2 linked regions of the Homo sapiens genome follow. The protein of the gene in region 1 purifies or fractionates together with the protein of each later gene. This does not show direct contact. Each region holds a gene or a part of one and is shown on either strand. Other genes may lie near its edges.

Region 1 (7,496 bases):
TAAGTCTTGGCAGAAAGCCTGTGGTCTTCCCCAAACATGGAAAGATGGGAACCTTGTGAGGAGCTGCAACAAGGTCACTTCTCACCCCCCTTCCCATCTTTCGTGGAGGCTGTCATGAGACAGCTGTCATAACTGTGTCATCATCTCCTGGGTTCTGAAGAGGTATGAGGCTTTTTGCCTCACTCACCCCCACCCCGTAGGGTACACAGGCTATGAAACAGCTATGGCAGCATGGACTGGCTCCTCAGCCACTGCCCATGTTGTGTTGTCACTCGCCCTCTTTTCTGTGCTGTCTTGTGGGGCAAGGGATGGGAAAAGCTGACACTTTTGCCGATCTTGAACTTGCTAGCTATGTGAGTAATAAACTCTCTGGCTCTAAAAAGGGTTTGTTGTTTCCTTGCCAGCCACATTTGTCAGCCAGCTTGACAAACCCACTACTTGGGCAGATGTCACCTGGCCCAGTACAAGAAAATGCTGATGCTCTGGCTACTGCTATTTCTGTGATTAATAAAGCTCTTTGTCTCTGGCTCGGGAGTTTCAGGTTTTCTGCCAGCATCTATAAACCTGGGGCAAGTAGGGGCAAATCTCAGACGCATCACAGTTCTTGCCACCACCATAAGCATCACCAGGAACACTGCATTCTCTCTGTGTTCAGAAGACTTTGTGACTGGAATGGGACACAAAAGCCTCAAAATTCCCACTAGAAACCTCCTTGAGTAGGAGCTGGGGGCAGAACAGGCTCCATATGGATATGTCCCTCCTGATTTCCATGACTGGGCTCTGTTGAGCTAAAAAGTGGCTTCAAAGAGAGAATGCTGAGTTGGTTCATTACTCACCACCTGCACTATGGCAGCGTTCCTTGATTTCTTTGCAGCTTCTAGGCAGGGAAGAAAAGGAGAAGGCACAGGTTTCGAATTCCCTCGAGAGCATCTCAAGAGAAGAGGCTGCTGCTAGAAAATGTGAGAATGAGTCTCATTAGAAGTCTGACCACTGAGGCCATCTTTCCTGGCCAATCTCTGCCCCTGTATCAACTCATCACTCTGCTCTGAAGTCCCAGGAGGTCAGGGATTCCCTATGCTAAGACGGTCTGATCCAACAGCTGGTATAGGTTAAACACCTGGAATCTTCCACTCGACTAATTTTAATTAAATACCTACTGTGTGAACTACCTAGACACCGGACAAAGACAATTTGACACATTTCTTCAAGAGACTACATTCTACAAGGAAGGAGCACATGGAAAGGGACCCAACTGAGATGGGAGGGCAAACCCACTAACGGGGGTGAGGCCTGGGAACTGCTGGGGAAGGGACCAGCTGTAACTCAGAGCAGGCTGATTTTGATGGGAGAATGGGAGCTGGCTACAGGACAGGAAGGAAAGGGGAGAGTACACCCCAGGAAGAGAAGAAAGCACATGAGATGGCCTGAAGCAATAACAGAGCCCAGCCCAGCCCAGCCTGCCAAAAACTACAGGTCAGTCGCTTATTGTGGCTGGAACATATGTTGTAATACAAAGAAGTCTGGAAACCAAAGCTGAAAAATTAACAGAGGCCAGTGGATGAAGGGCCATGTATATAAGTCTAAAAGCCTAGAAATCATTCCAAAAGCCTGGCAGAGCGGGAAAAAGTGTAAAATTACAGGACTCAGGCCAGGCACAGTGGCTCATGCCGGTAATCCCAGCACTTTCGGAGGCCGAGGAGGGTGGATCACAAGATCAGGAGTTCAAGAACAGCCTGGTCAATATGGTGAAACCCCATCTCTACTAAAAATACAAAAATTAGCTGGGGTGTGGTGGTGCACACCTGTAATCCCAGCTACTGGGGAGGCTGAGGCAGGAGAAGCTCTTTAACCCAGGAGACGGAGGTTGCAGTGAGCCGACATCACGCCACCGCACTCCAACCTGGGCAACAGAGCAAGACTCCGTCTAAAAAAAAAAAAATTACAGGACTCAAGGTAAAATCCAGACAAACCCTGATGACAGTGCCTCCTTGAGCAGACACTTAACATCTCTGATCCTTTTTCTTCATCTTTAAGATGTCATTAATAACTTCTTTATACGCATGGAGATCAAATGAGATGACATATGTAAATGTGCTTTTTTTAACTGATGGATTGAAATAAACAATAAACCCAGTATCAATGAAAAAATATCACTATTGTGCCTACTGGAAGAATAGAATTGTGAGGATTCTATTCTCACAATATCCTCCTCTGCGACTAGAGGAGGGTGTACCCTGGACACAGCACTGATCACCCAGCTGCCTCTGGAGATCCCAAGGCCAAGGCCACAAGAGCAGCTGAGCAGGGACACAGTTCTTACTCTCTCACCCCATGAACCCCTCACAGCCACAGAAGCAGAGAATCAAGCCCTAGGAAATACCTGAGCTAACACCCTGACTGCTTCAGACCAGACCCCAGGAGAGGCCAGAAATCAGCACCCAGTCCACACCTCAAGTTGGCTGCCTAGCCTGGGTTCCCTGCCTCTCCAGAACTTCCCCTTTGACCCTTGACTTCAGAGCCCTGCCCAGCTCTACTCCCTCCAGGCCCTGCACAGCAGAGGGGAGCCCAGGAAACTGCAGCTCCTACTCTCAGAAGCCATTTACCTGCACTGCACCCACTGGTGGCCACAGAGAAGAATAACAGGAAGCAGAGTCTGGTCATTGTCCTCTAAGGAAAAACAAGATGCACAAGGTCACTGGCTGGCCCTTCCTTTGTCATCCTCTCGTTCTTACTTCCTAACCTTTCTGAGTCAGGAATCCTCAAATGGAAAGTGATGGGCTCATGAGCATTCTAAAACCTCCTGGAATATGCCCCACGGCTGTCCAACACTACAAATACCCAAGGGGCCATGGGCTCATTTCCCTGAAACTCTAAATCTCTAAAACTGAGACCTGAGCTGGCATCATTGCTCCCACACACATGGATCAAAAACATTTTTCTCACCAGCATGGACAGCATCCTTACAGATGCCAGGAGCTGATAGTTCCCTTCCTGTGGACACTCGGAGCTCCCCTGCAGAGGATCCTGATGAAGGGTGAAGTGCTGGTCCCTTTATGTGGAGAGCTGTGGAGAGCCAAACCACCTGAGCCCTGCCCAGCCCAACCCTGAGCAGCCTAGGCTGCTAGCCCCTCCCTCTGAAGCCCTTCCCTCTGAGGGTACCTGAGCCTGGGACCGTGGAAATGAGAAAGGACGTGCGACTGGCTGGAGGAGCAGGGAGCTGTGTTCCTGGCCACACAGGTGACTGTCGCCATCTGAGGAGGGGCATCCTGCTTTGCCAAGGCAGGCCATACAATGTAGCAGTATCTAATCAGATTCGTGGATAGGTCACAATCCTCCCCTGCGTTCTCCCTCTCCCACCTCCCCCAGATGCCCTGGCCCCCTAGACACAACTCTGTCAAGAAATCATCCTTTTAGACTGAGGTGACACCTCATGAAAAATAAATTAATTAATTAAGAATAATAATTGGCCAGGCACAGTGGCTCACACCTATAATCATAGCGCTTTGGGAGGCCGAGGTGGGCGGATTACCTGAGGTCAGGAGTTCAAGACCAGCCAACATGGTGCAACCCTGTCTCTACTAAAAATACAAAAATTTAGCTGGGTGCAGTGGCGTGCACCCGTAATCCCAGCTACTCTGGAGGCTGAGACAGGAGAACTGCTTGAACCCAGGAGGTGGAGGTTGCAGTGAGCCAAGACTGCTCCACTGCACTCCAGCCTGGGCAACAGAGCAAGACTTCACCTCAAAATAATAATAATAATAATAATAATAAATAAATGGGAAAAGAAGACATCATCCTTCCAATCTTTCCTCCAATTTCTCTATGAGGCCTTCCCTGACACCCCCATCACCAGACAAAGCTGATGGATCCTTCCTTTGTCCCACTATACACTGTCCAAACACTAATTATTGCATGTATCCTGCTGTAATTTTATTGTTTTATTAACTCTGTTTAGAAACAATTTGAAATTTATTAAATGTTGCAAAAATAACAATAATATAAAGCCACATATATGCCCTTTACCTAGATTCAACTATTGTTAATATTTCACCCCATTTGCTTTATCTTTCGTGTTCTCTCTCTCTCTCTCTATATATATATAGATATATGTATATAAAATACACCCACACACACAAAATTTTTTTCTGAACCATTTGAAGGTAAGGTACATACATCATGGGCTTTTACCTTTAAATAAATGCGTATGGGTTTTTTTTATTTTGTTTTGTTTTTTGACACAGAGCCTCACTCTGTCACCCAGGTTGGAGTGCAATGGCATGGTCTCAGCTTACTGCAACCCCCGCCTCCCAGGTTCAAGTGATTCTCCTGTCTCAGCCTCCCGAGTAACTGGGATTACAGGCACCCACCACCACGCCCAGCTAATTTTTGTATTTTTAGTAGATACGGGGTTTTGCCATCTTGGCCAGGCTGGTCTTGAACTCGTGACCTCGTGATCCACCTGCCTCGGCCTCCCAAGTGCTGGGATTATAGGTGTAAGCCACCATGCCTGGCCAACTGTGTGTTTTCTAATAATAGGAATATGTCATGTATAACCACAGTACAATTATCAACATCATATTATTAAAAACTCTTTTTTTGGGCTGGGCGCGGTGGCTCACGCCTGTAATCCCAGCACTTTGGGAGGCCGAGGTGGGTGGATCATCTGAGGTCAAAAGATCGAGACCAGCCTGACCAACATGGAGAAACCCGGTCTCTACTAAAAATACAAAATTAGCCGGTCGTGGTGGTGCATGCCTGTAATCCCAGCTACTCAGGAGGCTGAGGCAGGAGAATCACCTGAATCCAGGAGGCGGAGGTTGCAGTGAGCCGAGATCACACCATTGCACTCCAGCCTGGGCAACAAGAGTGAAACTCCATCTCAAAAAAAACAAAAAACAAAAAAAACTCTTTTCTTTTCTGTAGAAACGGGGTCTCCCCATGTTACCCAGGCTACTCCAGAACTCCTGACCTTGATCCTCCTGCCTCAGCTTGCCCAAGTGCTAGGATTACGGGCGTGAACCACCGAGCCAGCCTGTTAACTCTTTTTAACATAACTGATACTTCCCTAGAGTATCATCAGCCCAGGGGTCATGGTGAGTTAGCATTAATGAGACAGGAATTTCTCTGGCTTTCATGCCCTCCCATTGTAAGGAGACTTCTGGTCCCCTTTTAAGTCCATAATCCCAAGGGGCATCTTGTGTGTGCTAACAAACATTTCTCCATTCCACACATACTCCCAGCCCACCCTGACTCCTTTCAGCACTGCCTACTGAAACCACAGTAGGCACACACCACAGCTGAACACCAACCGTATGATTTGGCATCCCTGCTGCCTCTGATGCTGGATCTGGTGTCGGGACAAGTTGCTGGTGTTTAAGGCACTGCTTCCTCTCACTCCCAGGCCTCCGGCACATCTCTTGCTATTCAAGGCATGGAAGTCATCCACCTCATAGGGTGCTGGAGAAGGGAAACGCCTCACTGCTCCCATGATGGGCACCAGACCAGGACATGTCTCCAGGTGTCTCAGTGACCTCAGTGACACTGTTCTTTCAGTGTCTCTTGCAGTCTGTCTCTCTCTTGGACTCAGACAGGAATCTAAGGAGACGAGGATAGAGGACAAACCTGGAAGATGTCATACTACTCTGATGGACCTTTGTCTCTGAATACTAAGATACTATTATTGGAAAGATTTTGTAAGCTCCTTCTCCTGAAACTTTTGAATTTTTTTATTTGAGTATTTATATAGGTATTTGCTTAATACCTGTCTCCTTCTTTATAGAGACAGAATCTATGTCTGTGGTTGTCCACCAGATGTCCAGGCCTATGCACAATGCCTGGCACACAGTGGGCCTTCAATATGCATTAGTTGAATGAAAGAAATTGACTCCAGGTGGTACTAAAAAACACACATGAACGCTTCCTCCAATCCAAAAAAATTTTAGGAATGAAAATGGCCAATGCAAAATTTTACAGTTTTCTCCCCTTTGTTGTAATTACTCTAAGCCATGTTTCCACCATCAAATACTCAATAAAAGTTAGAATGCATGCAACAGCTTGGTGTTTACCAATGCTTTGGAGGAAAAAAGGAAGAGATGTGGTGTCCTGTTTGGGAAAGAACAACAGGACAAAGGAAACCAGACAAAAACAATGGCATCCCCAAACAGATGGATGATAAGGAATAGATGAGAGCCCAGGAACTGGCTGAAATGCAGAAACACACAGGAGAAAAATAGGTCTCCTTGGCACTCTTCAGTTGAATTGGGTAATTTTCTACAGTAGATTTTTCCCGCAGTACCAGAACTACTGGGAATGGCAATGAAAACGTAGCTGGAAGAAAGGGGACCTGAGGCTTCCATTACATATTCATAAATGTTTATTATCCACTTAGTACCTTTCTTTGTAAATTCTGGATTTTTTTTTTAAGACAAAGTCTCACTCTGTTGCCCAAGCTGGAGTGCAGTGGCATGATCTTGGCTTACTGCTACCTCCACCTCCCGAGTTCAAACGATTCTCCTGCCTCAGCCTCCTGAGTAGCTAGGACTACAGGCACGCACCACCATGCCCAGCTAATTTTTGTATTTTTAGTAGAGACGGGGTTTCACTATGTTGGCCAGGCTGGTCTTGAACTCCTGACCTCATGATCCACCTGCCTCAGCCTCCCAAAGTGCTGGCATTACAGGCATGAGCCACCAAGCCCGGCCAATTCTGGATATTTTAAATTTCATTTTTAATACCTCTGGCATTAATTTTCATGTAAATCTGAGGTGAACATCTAAATTGATCTTTCTTCATCTTGCAAATTTTTTTTTCCCAACATTGTTTATGGATTGTTTTCCATCATAATTTTTTTTTTTTTTTGAGATGGAGTTTCGCTCTGGTTGCCCGGACTAGAGTGCAATGTAACGATCTCCGCTCACTGCAACCTCTGCTTCCCAGGTTCAAGCGATTCTCCTGCCTCAGCCTCCCAAGTAGCTGGGATTACAGGTATGTGCCACCACGCCTGGCTAATTTTGTATTTTTAGTAGAGACAGGGTTTCACTATTTTGGTCAGGCTGACCTCAAACTCCTGACCTCAGGTGACCCACCCACCTCAGCCTCCCAAAGTGCTGGGATTACAGGGATGAGCCACTCCACCCCGCCTTTCATCACAATTAGTGCCTTTAGTAGGCATTAAATGAGTTCTTACTTAGGGTCGATTCATCTATTTTTGTACGAGTACTATGTCGTTTAAATTATTACAGCTTAACAACATATTGTGATTCCAAGAAGGCTAATGCCTACATTTACACGTACATATAAAATAGTTGTTTATCAAATGCAAAACCTTATTAAGTGTTTCTTTGGGCCAGGCGCAGTGGCTCACAACTGTAATCCCAGCACTTTGAGAAGCTGAGGTAGGAGGATGACTTGAGCCCAGGAGTTCCAGAACAGCCTGGGCAGCATAGTGAAACCCTGTCTCTAAAAAAAAAAAAAATTAGCCAGGTGTGGAGATTTGC
Region 2 (4,841 bases), on another chromosome or scaffold:
CCAAACACACCAAGTTCGTGCGGGACATGATTCGGGAGGTGTGTGGCTTTGCCCCGTACGAGCGGCGCGCCATGGAGTTACTGAAGGTCTCCAAGGACAAACGGGCCCTCAAATTTATCAAGAAAAGGGTAGGTGGGCGCTGCCGGCCGAGGGGCGGGGTGGGATGGGAGTCAGGGCCGGGCTGACGGCGGCCTCGTCCCTGGCAGGTGGGGACGCACATCCGCGCCAAGAGGAAGCGGGAGGAGCTGAGCAACGTACTGGCCGCCATGAGGAAAGCTGCTGCCAAGAAAGACTGAGCCCCTCCCCTGCCCTCTCCCTGAAATAAAGAACAGCTTGACAGAAGCCCTGGCTCTCCTGCTGTCCGTGGGTGGGTGTGGGTGTGTCGGGGGCCCGCAGTCCCCTGTCTGGTGCCCGCTCTGAGCCACACCCTCTCCGGGTGCTGCCTGGTCGTGAATCAAAAGCCGTGGCCCGCCCACCCTTCCCGGGGCAGCAGGTGAGGAAGCCGCCGTACTGCAAATGACTTTAATCATTAAATAGCTTCTATGCCACACTCTGATTAAGCCGACTGAGGTCCCTGGGATCTGGGTCACTGGACCGAGCTGCTCGCTCGGTGGCTCCACTGCCAGGTCCGGGCGCGCTCCCCACAGCGCTCAGTTCTGGCCCAGACAGGGCCTGACATCCGCCGCCTGCAGTCCCGGGGTGGCCGTCACCGTTCCACGGCCAGCGCCTCTGCCTGCTCGTCCGGGAAGGCGATGTCGAAGATCTCCCGGTAGTGTTCCACGAAGTGCACCTCCAGGCCCTCGGTGATGAAGGCTGCCAGGTCGTAGAAGTCCTTCTTGTTCTCGGCTGGCAGGACGATGCACGTCACCCCTGCGCGCTTGGCCTGGGGGCAGAGTCAGGGTCAGCCCTGCCTGGGCCTGTGGGAGGGCAGCAGGTGTGCTAACCTCCAGGAACGAAAGGGCTTCCTGGGGACCGGCGATACACAGTGATGCCGGGTTCTAAGCAGTAAGTCCCAAAACCCACCAGGGTCCCCGTCTCCCACGGGGAAACAGGCTCAAGGCAAAACCACTGGCCTTGGCTCCAACAGCCTGAGAGCAGGAGCCAGGGCCTCCCCACCCCCTTATCTAGGAAGTCTGGCCGTGCGGTGGGAGCAGTCTCAGGGCTCTGGATGAGCCACACACCCACGGCCTCACATCCAGAGGTCAGGCAGTGTCTGGGGCCTGAACAGGGTTCCTGTGAGCATCTGCATCTCTGCCCCCAGGCCCTGCGTCACCCCCCTCACCTCCGGAGGCTACACATATCTGGAGTAGATGCCAGGCACAGCCCCACCACAGCCCCTTGAAAGGACAGCAGTTCCCACTGTCACCGCACACTGACTCCATGGACAGTGAGCCTCCCAATTTGCCTCCACCATTTTATCATCTAGGAAGTCTGTGCCTGGTGTCCAATTCAAGGTGGTCACAGCCACTTGACCATGCCTCCCTCGTGGTGGCATCTCCTGACTGACTGCACCAGGCTTCCTAGACACATGGCAAGTGTGGTCCAGTCTGGGGACAGGCAGGGATGGGAGGGAAGAGTGGGGACAGTGGCGCTCCAACCTGCTCAGCACCCTTGGAAGAGGCCAGCCCCTGGCCAGGGGCTCCAAACACCCCCGCCACCAGTAATCCTAAACGTCGTCCCCATCTCTAGCCTCTCCCTTGGCGCTGGGCTGCCTGGGAAGAGAAGCAGGAGCCACCCCCCCAATCCTACTGGGGAAGCCAGTGGAGGCTCAGAATGTTCTCCACAAGACTTGCTGTGGAGAAGGCAGCTAGGGCGGTGAGCTTAAGGCCAGCTCCAGGCCAGAGAGACCTGCTTCCAAAGCCCAGGGCTTCCCTCTCCTTGGCCCAGGCAGAGGTTGCATGGCGGGGACTGGGCCTGTCCCGTGGTGGTGTGGGCCCTGCCAGTGCTGTGGGGTGGGTACAGGGACACTCACCGCAATGGTCTTCTCCTTGATGCCACCAACAGGCAGGATCTTGCCCGTGAGGGAGACTTCGCCAGTCATGGCCAGATTCTGCCGGACAGGCCTGCCCATGGCCAGGGACAGCAGGGCCGTGACGATGGTGCAGCCTGCGCTTGGGCCGTCCTTGGGGGTGGCGCCCTGTGGAGGCATGTGGGGATAGTGGGTGAGCAGGTGGCCAGCAGCCCAGGGACTGGGCGGGAGCAGGTGGGAGCGGATGGCGCGGTCACCTCGGGCACATGCAGGTGGATGTGTGAGGTCACCAGGTAGTCATTGGCGGGGGCGTGCTGCATGAGGAAGGCTCTGGCGAAGGTGTAGGCTATGCGGGCGCTCTCCTTCATCACCTCCCCCAGCTGGCCTGTCACCTCCAGGCTGCCATCCTTGTCACCCTTGGCATCCTTGTCCTGTGGCCGTCTCAGGGATGTCTCCACAAACAGCGTGGAGCCTCCTGAAACAGGTGTGGAGCTGTGAACACGGGAGGCCTCGGAGCCCAGGCCGGTGCTCACTCCACCCCTCGGGGCCACTCTGACCGCTCCTGCCCCAGTTTAGCATCTTGGTGCCCCTGGGCAGGGGTTGGTGTCCCATCGTGAGCCAACGCTGGCCTCTACGTTTGCTGCGTTGCGGGTTCCTGGCTCTGTACGCCCCACAGGGCAGCCCCCAGCAGCTGCCAGCCACAGAGGACACGCCCAGGGCTACAAGGCCCAGCTGCCGCTGCCCTGCAGACAGACACAAGCCCTTCTCCAGCCCCTCCCGCACCATCCCCTTTGCCCTCTCGCCTCCTTTGTGCGTGGTGGCCCCAAGGCCCATCTGGATGAGCTTGTCCTTACCTGTAAGCCTATCAAAGTGGCACCCAAATCCATAAGGCCCATGGTGTGCTGCCACCCCCATGTGTCACAGCCTTCCCCTCCCTCAGCCCAGACCCCCTGGGCTCCCAGCACACCACCCCCCGCCAGAGGCCGTTCAGAGCCACCTGAGGCCCACTGCACAGGTGTACAAGGTGGGACCTGCTTGTTCTCGGGTAGAAATGGGAATGGCTTTGGGGTCTTCTCCCGCCACCACGCTCACCCATTGCGGTCCAGGCCAGCCCCATGACCACGCCGGGCGGTGTCACGTCATACATGCGCTCCACGGTGAACACGGGCTTCCCCACGAAGTCCTGCAGGTTCTCGGGCGTCACCTCCACGGACTCGGCCTCGCCGCTGACAATCTTGTAGGCCGATTTCCGTAACACCTGGGCGGTCAGGGCAACACAATGGGCACGGGAAGGTGGGGTGACAGGTGCGGGGTGGTGGGGTGACGGGCACAGAAAGGTGTGACGGGCGCGGGGTGGTGGGGTGATGGGCGCAGGAAAGTGGGATGATGGGCATGGAAAGGTGGGGTGATCAGCGTGGGATGGTGAGGTGGGCGGCAGGTGCCAGGAGGGCGGGCTGGCCGCTCACCTTCTCCACTTGCTTCTGCAGGTTGCGGACACCGCTCTCGCGGCAGTACTGCTTGATGAGCAGCGTCAGCACGTCCGATGACAGCTTGGCCTTGCTCTCATCCAAGCCACACAGGGCGCGAGCCTGGGGCACCAGGTAGCGCTGCAAGGGCAACCGTCAGGGTTGGGTCTGGAGGGACCTTGCCCACCAGCTCAGTCTAGAACCTGGGAGCCAATGCCTCTCCCATGGCCCCCAGACCCTGGCCTGGGAACGAGGTCCCTGATGGTGAAACCAGGGCCTGGACACCCCGCCCTGCCACCCACCATGCCCAGAGGCCCCAGGCCTTTGCTTGTGCTGCGTCCTCTGCTTGGATCCACTTCCTATCCCCCAATGGTATCTTAGATGCCGCTTCCTCCAGGAAGGCCTCCTGGTTGCCCCATGGGCTGGCCCCATACACAGACCCAGGGCCTGTAGGGTGGCTGACTGGTTACGTGGCTGCTGCCCTCAGCACATGAGGAAGGGGACTGGGTCAGGGGCTCCAGGGTCACCCACAGCCCCACACAATTCTTGCCACAGTTCTGAGCTCTAATGGCATGGGGGAGGGCATCTGTGAGACGGACAGAGCCATGCAAGCCACTCTACATCTGCCACTGATACTGGGGGGCACTCCTGATGCCCTGAGGGGTCCCCATGCCCCCCAGTCCTGTCCCCAGGAACTACAGGCCCGTCCCTTGGAGAAGTCAGGCTGGGAACTGGGCCCAGCAGTGGGCATTGAAGCCCCCAGGGGACACGAGGATGCTGGGAGGGCCTCAAGGGCAGGGACCAGTGCCCACCACTGGCTGTCAAAGGGCTCCTAGGGGAGAAATGCACTCAGCACCTTTGCAGAAAAAAAAACACATGAGAAATATGGGCCCCTGCATGCTCCTCACTGAAACCACTTCTCCTCCAAGCCTCATTCTGGGTGGGAGCCACAGGCCCCACTGCTTCCGGCTGCCAGAAACCTTCCCTACACTCTGGGCCAGGTGGGGGCCCCACCATGGGGCAGCCTGGAGGCCCCGGGAGACAGAGTGTGTGGCCTGACGGTGGTGGGCGGTGTTTTGGACAGTCCCAGGCCCTAAACCCTGCGCCCACTCGCGCCACCTGCAGCTGCTCGCAAGCGTCTGGTGTGTCTCTCACGGCCCCATCTGCTCCTCGGCCGCAGGTCCCACCTGTCTCTCCCGGGCCCAGGAGCTCCCAGAGGCACGGCCTCTGCAGGCTCTGGGGGGCGCCCCCTGCTCTGGGAAGGGGACAGCAGTGGGGAGGGGCTGGGCTTACCTCCGCAATGGCCAGCTTCTCCTGGGCCACGTAGCCCGACACGTTGATCATCTCCATACGGTCTCGCAGCGGCTCGGGGATGGTGTCCGTGACGTTGGCCGTGCAGATGAACA

What was found. The genes of interacting proteins can lie anywhere in the genome.
Region 2: the proteins of ITLN2 (region 1) and LONP1 purify together in Homo sapiens (co-immunoprecipitation; 2 studies listed by BioGRID and IntAct, with this or other methods). This does not show direct contact.

What each region holds. Positions count from the first base shown.
Region 1 is NC_000001.11:160,951,784-160,959,279, forward strand, and holds the start of ITLN2 (intelectin-2 precursor), read right to left. Parts: upstream 3,027-7,496; 5' UTR 2,959-3,026; coding exon 2,944-2,958; intron 2,668-2,943; coding exon 2,604-2,667; intron 951-2,603; coding exon 837-950; intron 1-836.
Region 2 is NC_000019.10:5,691,326-5,696,166, forward strand, and holds the end of LONP1 (lon protease homolog, mitochondrial isoform 1 precursor), read right to left. Parts: coding exon 4,729-4,841; intron 3,577-4,728; coding exon 3,436-3,576; intron 3,228-3,435; coding exon 3,062-3,227; intron 2,445-3,061; coding exon 2,227-2,444; intron 2,138-2,226; coding exon 1,973-2,137; intron 884-1,972; coding exon 707-883; 3' UTR 509-706; downstream 1-508. Other genes in the region: RPL36 (large ribosomal subunit protein eL36), read left to right, coding at 1-128, 207-296. UniProt on the Homo sapiens protein: ATP-dependent serine protease that mediates the selective degradation of misfolded, unassembled or oxidatively damaged polypeptides as well as certain short-lived regulatory proteins in the mitochondrial matrix.